Regions from separate parts of the Homo sapiens genome. Here regions 1 and 2 are each linked to region 3. The links come from fine-mapping of genetic effects on gene expression. A gene starts in region 3. Each other region holds a variant in brackets. All regions are shown on one strand. Distances are from middle to middle.

Region 1 (2,500 bases), 20 kb before region 3:
TCCCGCAGGAGGCGGAGCATGTGAAGCTCGGGGCATTTCCTGTGTCACCCGCAGGAGGGACCGCACACGGGACACTGTCCCAGTCGCAGCCCCAGGTGCCTGGAGGAGGGCGTCCCAGTCAGCCCCACCCAGCCGCAGACCCCCGGCCAGGGTGCCCTTCCCAAGCGTCGGTTCGTTCCCCTGCAGCACGGGTGAGCCTGCAGCGGGGCTGGAATATACCCAAGACCAGGCACCAACCCCCACCTGGCATTGGGCAGGGCCTGCAGAGCTGGGTCAGTCCTCACCGCCTCCCTCCAAGAAGGTTCTGGGAGGGTCCCTTTCCCACAGTGGGGAAACTGAGGCTCAGAAGAGGATGGCGCTTGCCCAGGTTCCGTGGTGGGGTGGGACCAGACACCAGGCCTGAGTCTTCATTCTTTTTTTTTTTTTAAGATGGAATCTCGCTCCATCACCCAGGCTGGAGGGCAATGGCGTGATCTCGGCTCACTGCAGCCTCCACCTCCTGGGTTCAAGCAATTCTCCTGCCTCAGCCTCCTGAGTAGTTGGCACTATAAGCATCCAACACCATGACCGGCTAATTTTTGTGTTTTTGGTAGAAGCGGGGTTTCACCATGTTGGCCAGGCTGGTCTCAAACTCCTGACCTCAGGTGATCCACCCACCTCGCTCTCCCAAAGTGCTGGTATTACAGGCGTGAGCCACCGAGCCCAACCTGAGTCACGATTCTCTCGGTTAACAGGAGGGCCCCCCAGGGAAAGAGGGCGGGCGGGCGGTCTGCGGAAGGGCATGGGCTCTGACCACCGCACACTCTGGCCGCCCTCCCGAGTCTCCAGAACTCCTACGCCTCCTTCCCAGCGGGCACAGGCCAGCCCGGCTGACCCCTCCCCGGGAAGCAGGAGGAGCCCTGCAGAAATCCCAGGGAGGAAGTGGGGTCTGGAACGGCCTCCCTGCCTCTACGCTCAGGCGGGGAAGCCTAGTTGCAGAGTGCCGTGCCAGGGAGTCCGGGCCACGTCCCCTGCACCTCCCCGCAGCTGCTCCCAGGACGGGCAGAGGCTTCGGCTGTCCACACCCTCTGGGTGAACGCTGGGGACTTGCCTGGCGCTGTGCGTGCACTGACCATGCCAAGGCCCACGTCTGCACATCTGTGCACAGCAGAGGGACCGCACCAGGCCAGGCACTCACCTCCGAGTCCCGGTCCCAGGAATGTGGATGAAGAGAGGCTGCTGTGCGACTCAGTGAAGTGGGTGCCCTCGCTGAAGGTCTAGGGGAGATGGGGTGGGGATGAGAGGTGCTGGGGCTTCACAGGCCCCCCCTCCACCCCGCATTACAGCTGGAGAGGCAG[GA/G]CTCAAACCCATGTCCCCCAGTCCAAACCCCTGGAAGGCTGGCCCCTTCTCTCAGCCTCAGTTTCCCCACACCCCTCGCCCCCAACTCTGGGGACAGGAAACTCAGGGTCTCAGGCCTCACGGGGACTCCTACCCGGCTGGGGTCAAAGGAGGAGCTGCTCTGGTCGCCGCTGCCCCAGGAGCCTGAGCTGGGCCGGTCCTCAAGACCTGCAGGCAGGACAGAGAGAGTTATGGGTCACCCTCACGCCTGCCCAGCTCTAAAAGCTTCGGTTCATCATCTCAGGGGCAAACCTCAGTGGACCCGGGGGGCTTGTGGAACCCTTCCTAACCCAGCCTCACCCAGCCCGACTCATGAGGACACCAGTCAGCAGCTAACACCCAGACACCCTGGGACTCGGAGCACTTACAGGTCCATAAACTTAAATTAACTCTTCCGTCGGCTCTCTGCTGGCCAACTCCTACCCACCCACTAAAGCCCCAGCTTTCATACCCTCCTTGGGCAAAGACCTCACTCTCACGCCGAGCCTCCTCCCCATCAGCCCCAAGTCCCTCCCTCTGGCCCAGCCCTGACTATGTGGACTGGGGTCTCTGTGTCAGATGCAGACTCTTCTGACCCTGTGAGAAAGGCTCATGACAGCATGAGGGTGTGGAAGCTAACCCATGAGCTCTGGGGAGGCCCAGGGTCTCCCTGTCCCCACCTGCCAGTGTGGGAAGTGGGGCCGCCCTTTGCTGAAGCAGCAGCAGAGGCTCACCCATCGGGCAGGAGGCTGGCAGCCCGTGAGGGTGGAGCCGAATCTCATCACCCAGGAACAAGCCCAGTGTGGAGACCAGAAGCCTGCGTGGGGCAGGAGTTCCCGGCGCAGCAAGGGACGGGACGAGGACCTTGGTCCCGGGGCGGGGCGGGCGGGGCCCTTATCTCTCAGAACACTCACAGGCAACGCCCAGGACTCCAGAATCTTCTGCCCTGGGCAGGGAGGGCCTGCTTGGATCCTTCCCCCTTCCATCGGGGGCCACAGAGCACACCCGTGGAGAAGCAGGAGCGGGCCCTGGGCCTCCTCAGCTTGGCCACGGAGTTGCTGCCCTGCCTTGGTTTCCCTCTCTATAAATGATTTACAAACAGGCCCTACTTTTGCAGGGCTGGGGGTGTCCATGTCCAACTCCC
Region 2 (2,500 bases), 29 kb before region 3:
AATCTTCCAGTGCTGAGCTTCCCTTGGTCCCAGAGCAACATTCGTCCTTCACTAAAGTAACAGGAAGAGGGGTCTGTGAGTAGCGCCAGCTCTGACTGGTTGGCACTGCCTGGACTGTGGGGCTGGGGCCTGTTGGTAACGTCTGCTGCTGTGCTGGAGCGGGAAGTATGCTGGGTGGGCCTGATGTTGTAATAAACTGGGGGGCGGTTTCAGGGCAGAGAAAGTGCACCCTGGGGAAGGAGGGGAGTGAGTGATACTGTTGGGAGCAGAGCCTGACCACGCCTTTGGCCTGGGAAGTCAACCTGACTCTAACCCCGAACCCAGGCCTGTGGGGAGCTGGTCGGCTGGAGGGGTGAGGAGATGTATGCCCAGGGCTCTTGGGGCCAGCACAGGCACTGGGCAGAGGGTGGTTGGTGGCTACTGAGCCAGGGAATCGGCAAATTCCCTCTCCCTCCAGCGAGATGAGACCGCAGGAGTGTGGCACAGCAGCCTGGACCATCTGCGAGGCCTGGTAGGGAGGCAGGGATGCGGGGCAGCCTGAAGCTGTGAGGATGTAACAGGGAGCCCCAATTGCGGCACCCCCCGCTTTTTTTTTTTTTTTTTTTGAGACAGAGTCTCACTCTGTTGCTCAGGCTGGAGGGCAGCGGCATGATCTTGGCTCACTGCAACCTCCGCCTCCTGGGTTCAAACGATTCTTCTGCCTCAGCCTCCCAAGTAGCTGGGATTACAGGCACGCACCACCACGCCCGGCTGATTTTTGTATTTTTAGTAGAGATGGGGTTTCACCATGTTGACTAGGCTGATCTAGAACTCCTGACCTCAGGTGATCCACCCACCTCGGCCTCCCAAAGCGCTGGGATGACAGGCATGAGCCACCACACCCAGCACAATTGTGCCCTTTCTAAAGGGGCCTCAGCCACCAGGACTGCCTTTCTCTCAAAACAAGACAGACAGAGGCTGGACCTAGGGAAGGACTTCCCCGCCTTCCCTTGGAGGCGGCCTCGGGTCAGAGCTCAGATCTTGGCTCAGAAATCACAGGGGGCCTGTCCACTCAGGGCCCACCCCGCCATGTGTGTTCCCAAGCTTCGCCAGGACACAGGGCCTGGCACTGCCACTGACGAGCTGTGGGGTCCCTTCTCCCTCGTGCGACTCACCGAGGATGGAAGACCCGGCGGGACCTTCCGGACCTTCTTGGGCTGCGTGTCTGTTAGAAGCAAAAGGGGTGAGAACCGGCCACCGGCCATGAGAACAACCCCTGCCCTACACCCTGGAGGAGAGACCCTCACAATTCCCGTTTCATATATTAAAAACCTCGGGTCGGCTGGGTGCGGTGCCTCATGCCTGTAATACCAGGACTTTGGGAGGCCAAGGCAGGCAGATCACGAGGTCAAGAGATCAAGACCATCCTGGCCAACACAGTGAAACCCCGTCTCTACTGAAAATACAAAAAGTAGCCGGGCGTGGTGG[C/T]GGGTGCCTATAATTCCAGCTACTCGGGAGGCCGAGGCAGGAGAATCACTTGAACCCGGGAGGCAGAGGCTGCAGTGAGCCGAGATCGTGTCACTGCACTCCAGCCTGGGGACAGAGAAAGACTCCGTCTCAAAACACAACAGCAGCAGCAGCAACAACAACAAAAAGCCCCGGGTCTATTTATACGGCTCCAAAGATGTCGAAGAACCACGATGGTTTTCTCCCGCGACGCGCAGTTTGGAAAACGAGGAGTTGGTGGATTCTAAGCCAAGGCTCTGCTGAGAAGCCCCTTGGCCCCACCCTCCTTCCAAGATGGCCCCGACTATCCCACGCAGTCAGGCTTCACCACTAGGGGCTGCTGTTTGCAAACTCGCCTACAGGATAAAATCCGTAACCCGGAAACCAGCACTCAGGCGCCTTCCTGATCACTCACGGACGTGCGCACAGTGGGAAAAGTTCGAGTGGCCCAGGCGCATGTGCCCAGCCAAGGCGGAACAGAGGCCTCCTCCCGCATCATGGGGCTCCTGTCCTTGGTCTATTCAGAGCCACGATCTTTTACGTTTTTGTGCTTTTTGTGGGTGATTTCACGCTTATTTTTTTCAGGCAGGGTCTTGCGCTGTTGCTCAGGCTGGAGTACAATGGTGCGATCGCAGCTCATTGCAGCCTCGAACTCCCAGGGTCAAACCATCCTCCTGCCTCAGCCTCCTGAGTAGCTGGGACCACAGGTGTGTGCCACCATACTTAGCTAATTTTTAAAATTTTTCGCAAAGATGGGATCTCCCTATGTTGCCCAGAATGGTTTGCAACTTTTGGCCTCAAGTGATCCTCCTGTCTCGGCCTCCAGAGAAGCTGGGACCCCAGGTGAGTGCCGCCATGCCTGGCGACTGTGCTGCCTGGAATGGGCCCCGGGTAGTTCAAGGCGCCGTCCAGTGCTCCTGAGCCCGAGGCTGTGACGTGCCTCGCGGGGGATGCCCGCGTGTGCAGCAGGGCTCAGTGCAGAGGAGCCACGATGCAGCCCCATGAGGCATCTGAC
Region 3 (2,833 bases):
CCATTCCACCCCCAGAAAAAGGTACAGAGAAAAATTTCCATTCCAAAGAAATGCACTCCAGGCCCCTCCAGTCTCGACTTTCCCCAGGGGTCCCCAGGTGGGGACGGGGGCAGCCCGGGAGACACCTCCGAGGCTGGGGGTGGGGAGGAGCCTCCGAGGTCGAGGGAGACCCAACTTCAGAAGCAGAGAAATCCCCTCTTTGTCTGCCAACTGGAGGCCGGGTGTGAAGCGGGCGCCCCAGCGCAGCCCCTCCCCCGCTCAGTTTTTTTCTTTTTTGGAGGGCGTGTGAAACTGACTTTTTTTGAGGACTACGAAACCGCACTTTTTTGTGGGGTAGCTGAAACCGATTTTAAGACAGACTTAGTTGGGGGGGTGGCGAGCTAAAACGGGCATTCTACGGGAGCTGGAAGACTTCTGGGGCGTCCCAAGGACTTTGAGAGACTTGGAGAATGTTTGAAGCCACTTTGCACGGCGCCGAAGGCGGGGGGCGCGCTGGAACGCCTTTTTCCCGGGGGGAGGCGGCCCGGGAAGCCGGACCCCCCTCCCCCCGCAGCCGGTGCAGGCGGTGCGGCCCGGGAGCCTTTGAAGCTCGCAGCGCGGCCGCCGCCTCGCCCCGCATTAACGCGGAGCAGATGTTACCCGCGCGCCCCCCCCCGGCCCGCCCGGCCCCGACCAGCGCCTGCAGCGCGCGGCACCTTCCCCGCGCAGACAAAAGGACGTCCCTCCCGCGCGCTCCCCACCCCAAACTCCGGCGCCCGGGCCGGGCCCCCCTCTACCCGAGAAAGGGGGCGCCCCGGGGTCCCCGTGCGCCCGGGCTGGGGGGGACGGTCCTCGCGCCTAAGTTGCACAGCCCGTCCGGCGCCCCCCGCGCCCCCGCCCGGGGCTGCTTAAAGTTTCCCGAAGTGCCCGGCCCGACGGGGGCGACGCGGGCCTGGCGAGCTCCGGGCTCCTCCACGTCGCCGCCCCCCCGGCGCCGCGCGAAGTTGGAGAACAATGACTCCCGGGCCGCGGGGCGCCCCCCGACACCGCCCCCGCCCCAACTTCCTCCGCGCCCCCCCCCAACAAGCGCGCGCGGGGCGGGCCGGGGTTCCCTGGGCACAAAGCACGGGGGTACCGGGCGCGCCCCCCGCCCCCCGCCGGGCTCACCTGCTGGGCGCGGCCGGGCACGCGGCGCGTGGGGGGGGGCGGCGGCATGAAGCGGGGGGGCCCCCCCCCGGACAAAGGTGCGTCGCGGCCGGGCCCCCGAGGGTCGCGCGTGGGCGGCGGCGGCGGCGCGCGTGGCCCGGGCCCCTCCCACCCCCGCGTGGCCCGTCCCGCGGGGCCCGTGCGCGCGGCCGGCCGGGGCGCCCCTGGGGCAGCGGCGTGCGCGGTGCCCGCGGTGCCCGCCGCCGCGTCGGCTCCGGCCCGCTACGCCCGCAGCCGCCGCCGCTGCCTCATCTTCCTGCGGCGGGAGACATGTTCCGCCCCCCGCCCGCGCCGCCCCGCCCCGCCCCGTGCAGGCCCCGCCCCTGCCCCGCCCCCGAGTGCCCCGCCCGGCGGCCCACGCGGATCCCTCCGCCACCTCCGGGCGGCTCGGGCCCGAACGCCCTAGCTCGGCCTCTCGAGCACCCTCGTGAGGACCCCGAATCCCGTGAGGTCCAGAGCCTGGGAGCGGGGACGCGCAGAGGAGGCGGTCGGGCCACGGCGCGGGGAGAAATCACGGACTATCCCCGTCCGCGGAAGCACACACGAGCTGTGCGCTTAGTCCATGACGCAAGCGAGTAAGGCCCGTGAGATTGAAAGCTAAGGCAGAGCAGTCTGGTCAATCGGAAGCCGCGAAAGTCTGATGGGCGGGGATCCTAGCCATTCGTGGTGAGGCCCCGCCTCCTTTCTTCTCGGCCCCGCCCCTCAGCAGAGGCGGGACTCTGCGAGCGAGAGGCCGCGAGAGGCGGCCGGGGTGGGTCCTGGAGTTTTGTTCTCAGGTTGGCGTGGCCGCCCGCGCGGAGCCTTCTGCTTGGTTATATTTGCGTTCCTCGGGCCGGCCCCGCGTGCTGAGTGGTGCGAGCGGGTATCACGGCCCCGAGGGGGCTACGTCAGACCCATTTTCCCGGCGGGAAAACCGACTCTGGCTCCGGCTCTGGGTCAGAGAGCCCCGCGGGGAGTCTCAGCGGTGCCTTTGCCGACTTGAGTCTCCGTCTCGGCATCTGTGAATTTGGACCTGACTTTGGACAGAACTCAGGCCAGATCTGGCTTCCTGATTCTTAGTAGTCCGTGTCTACATTTTAGTAAAAAGTGACCCCGCCTAGGATCGGGCGCCGTGGCTCCTGCCTGTGATCCCAGCGCTTTGAAGGAGGCCGAGGCGGGAAGATCGCTTGAGGCCAGGAGTTCGAGAACAGCCTGAACAACATAGTGAAACCCCCCCCACCCACACCCGTCTCTAAAAATATTTAAAATAATTTAAAATAATAATTTAAAAAGTTGACCGGACGCGGTGGCCCACGCTTGTATTCCCAGCACTTTGGGAGGCCAAGGCGGGCAGATCACCTGAAGTCAGGAGTTCGAGACCTCTCTGGCCAACACGGTGAAACCCCATCTCTACTAAAAATACAAAAATTAGCCGGGCATGGTGGCGGGCACCTGTAGTCCTAGCTACTCGGGAGGCTGAGGCAGCAGAATCGCTTTCACCCGAAAGGCGGAGGTTGCAATGAGCCGAGAGCACGCCATTGTACTCCAGCCTGGGCAACAAGGACGAAACTCCGTCTCAAAATAAATAAATAAATAAGTAAAATAAAATAAAAATACAAAAATTAGCTGGGCGTGGTGGCATACACCTATAATCTCAGCTACTCGGGAA

The links. PIP is the estimated chance that this variant, and not a neighbour inherited with it, causes the effect.
Region 1: its variant is the best candidate, but not a certain one, in a credible set for the expression of TCF3 in whole blood (TOPMed, PIP 0.77).
Region 2: its variant is the best candidate, but not a certain one, in a credible set for the expression of TCF3 in left ventricle (GTEx, PIP 0.84).

The regions. Positions count from the first base shown.
Region 1 is chr19:1,630,861-1,633,360 of GRCh38, forward strand. TCF3 (transcription factor 3) reads right to left here. Exons shown (of 19, transcript NM_003200.5): 4 at 1,472-1,545; 5 at 1,178-1,256. Among named protein-coding and RNA genes, the nearest start is that of TCF3, 21 kb to the right of the region's middle. The variant GA/G (reference allele first, on the strand shown) is at 1,338.
Region 2 is chr19:1,622,797-1,625,296 of GRCh38, forward strand. TCF3 (transcription factor 3) reads right to left here. Exons shown (of 19, transcript NM_003200.5): 8 at 1,155-1,204. Among named protein-coding and RNA genes, the nearest start is that of UQCR11, 19 kb to the left of the region's middle. The variant C/T (reference allele first, on the strand shown) is at 1,468.
Region 3 is chr19:1,651,154-1,653,986 of GRCh38, forward strand. TCF3 (transcription factor 3) reads right to left here and starts at 1,462. Exons shown (of 19, transcript NM_003200.5): 1 at 1,147-1,462. RefSeq lists silencers at 381-500, 481-703, 511-740, 831-910, 1,441-1,570 and 1 more and enhancers at 1,921-1,970, 2,091-2,200.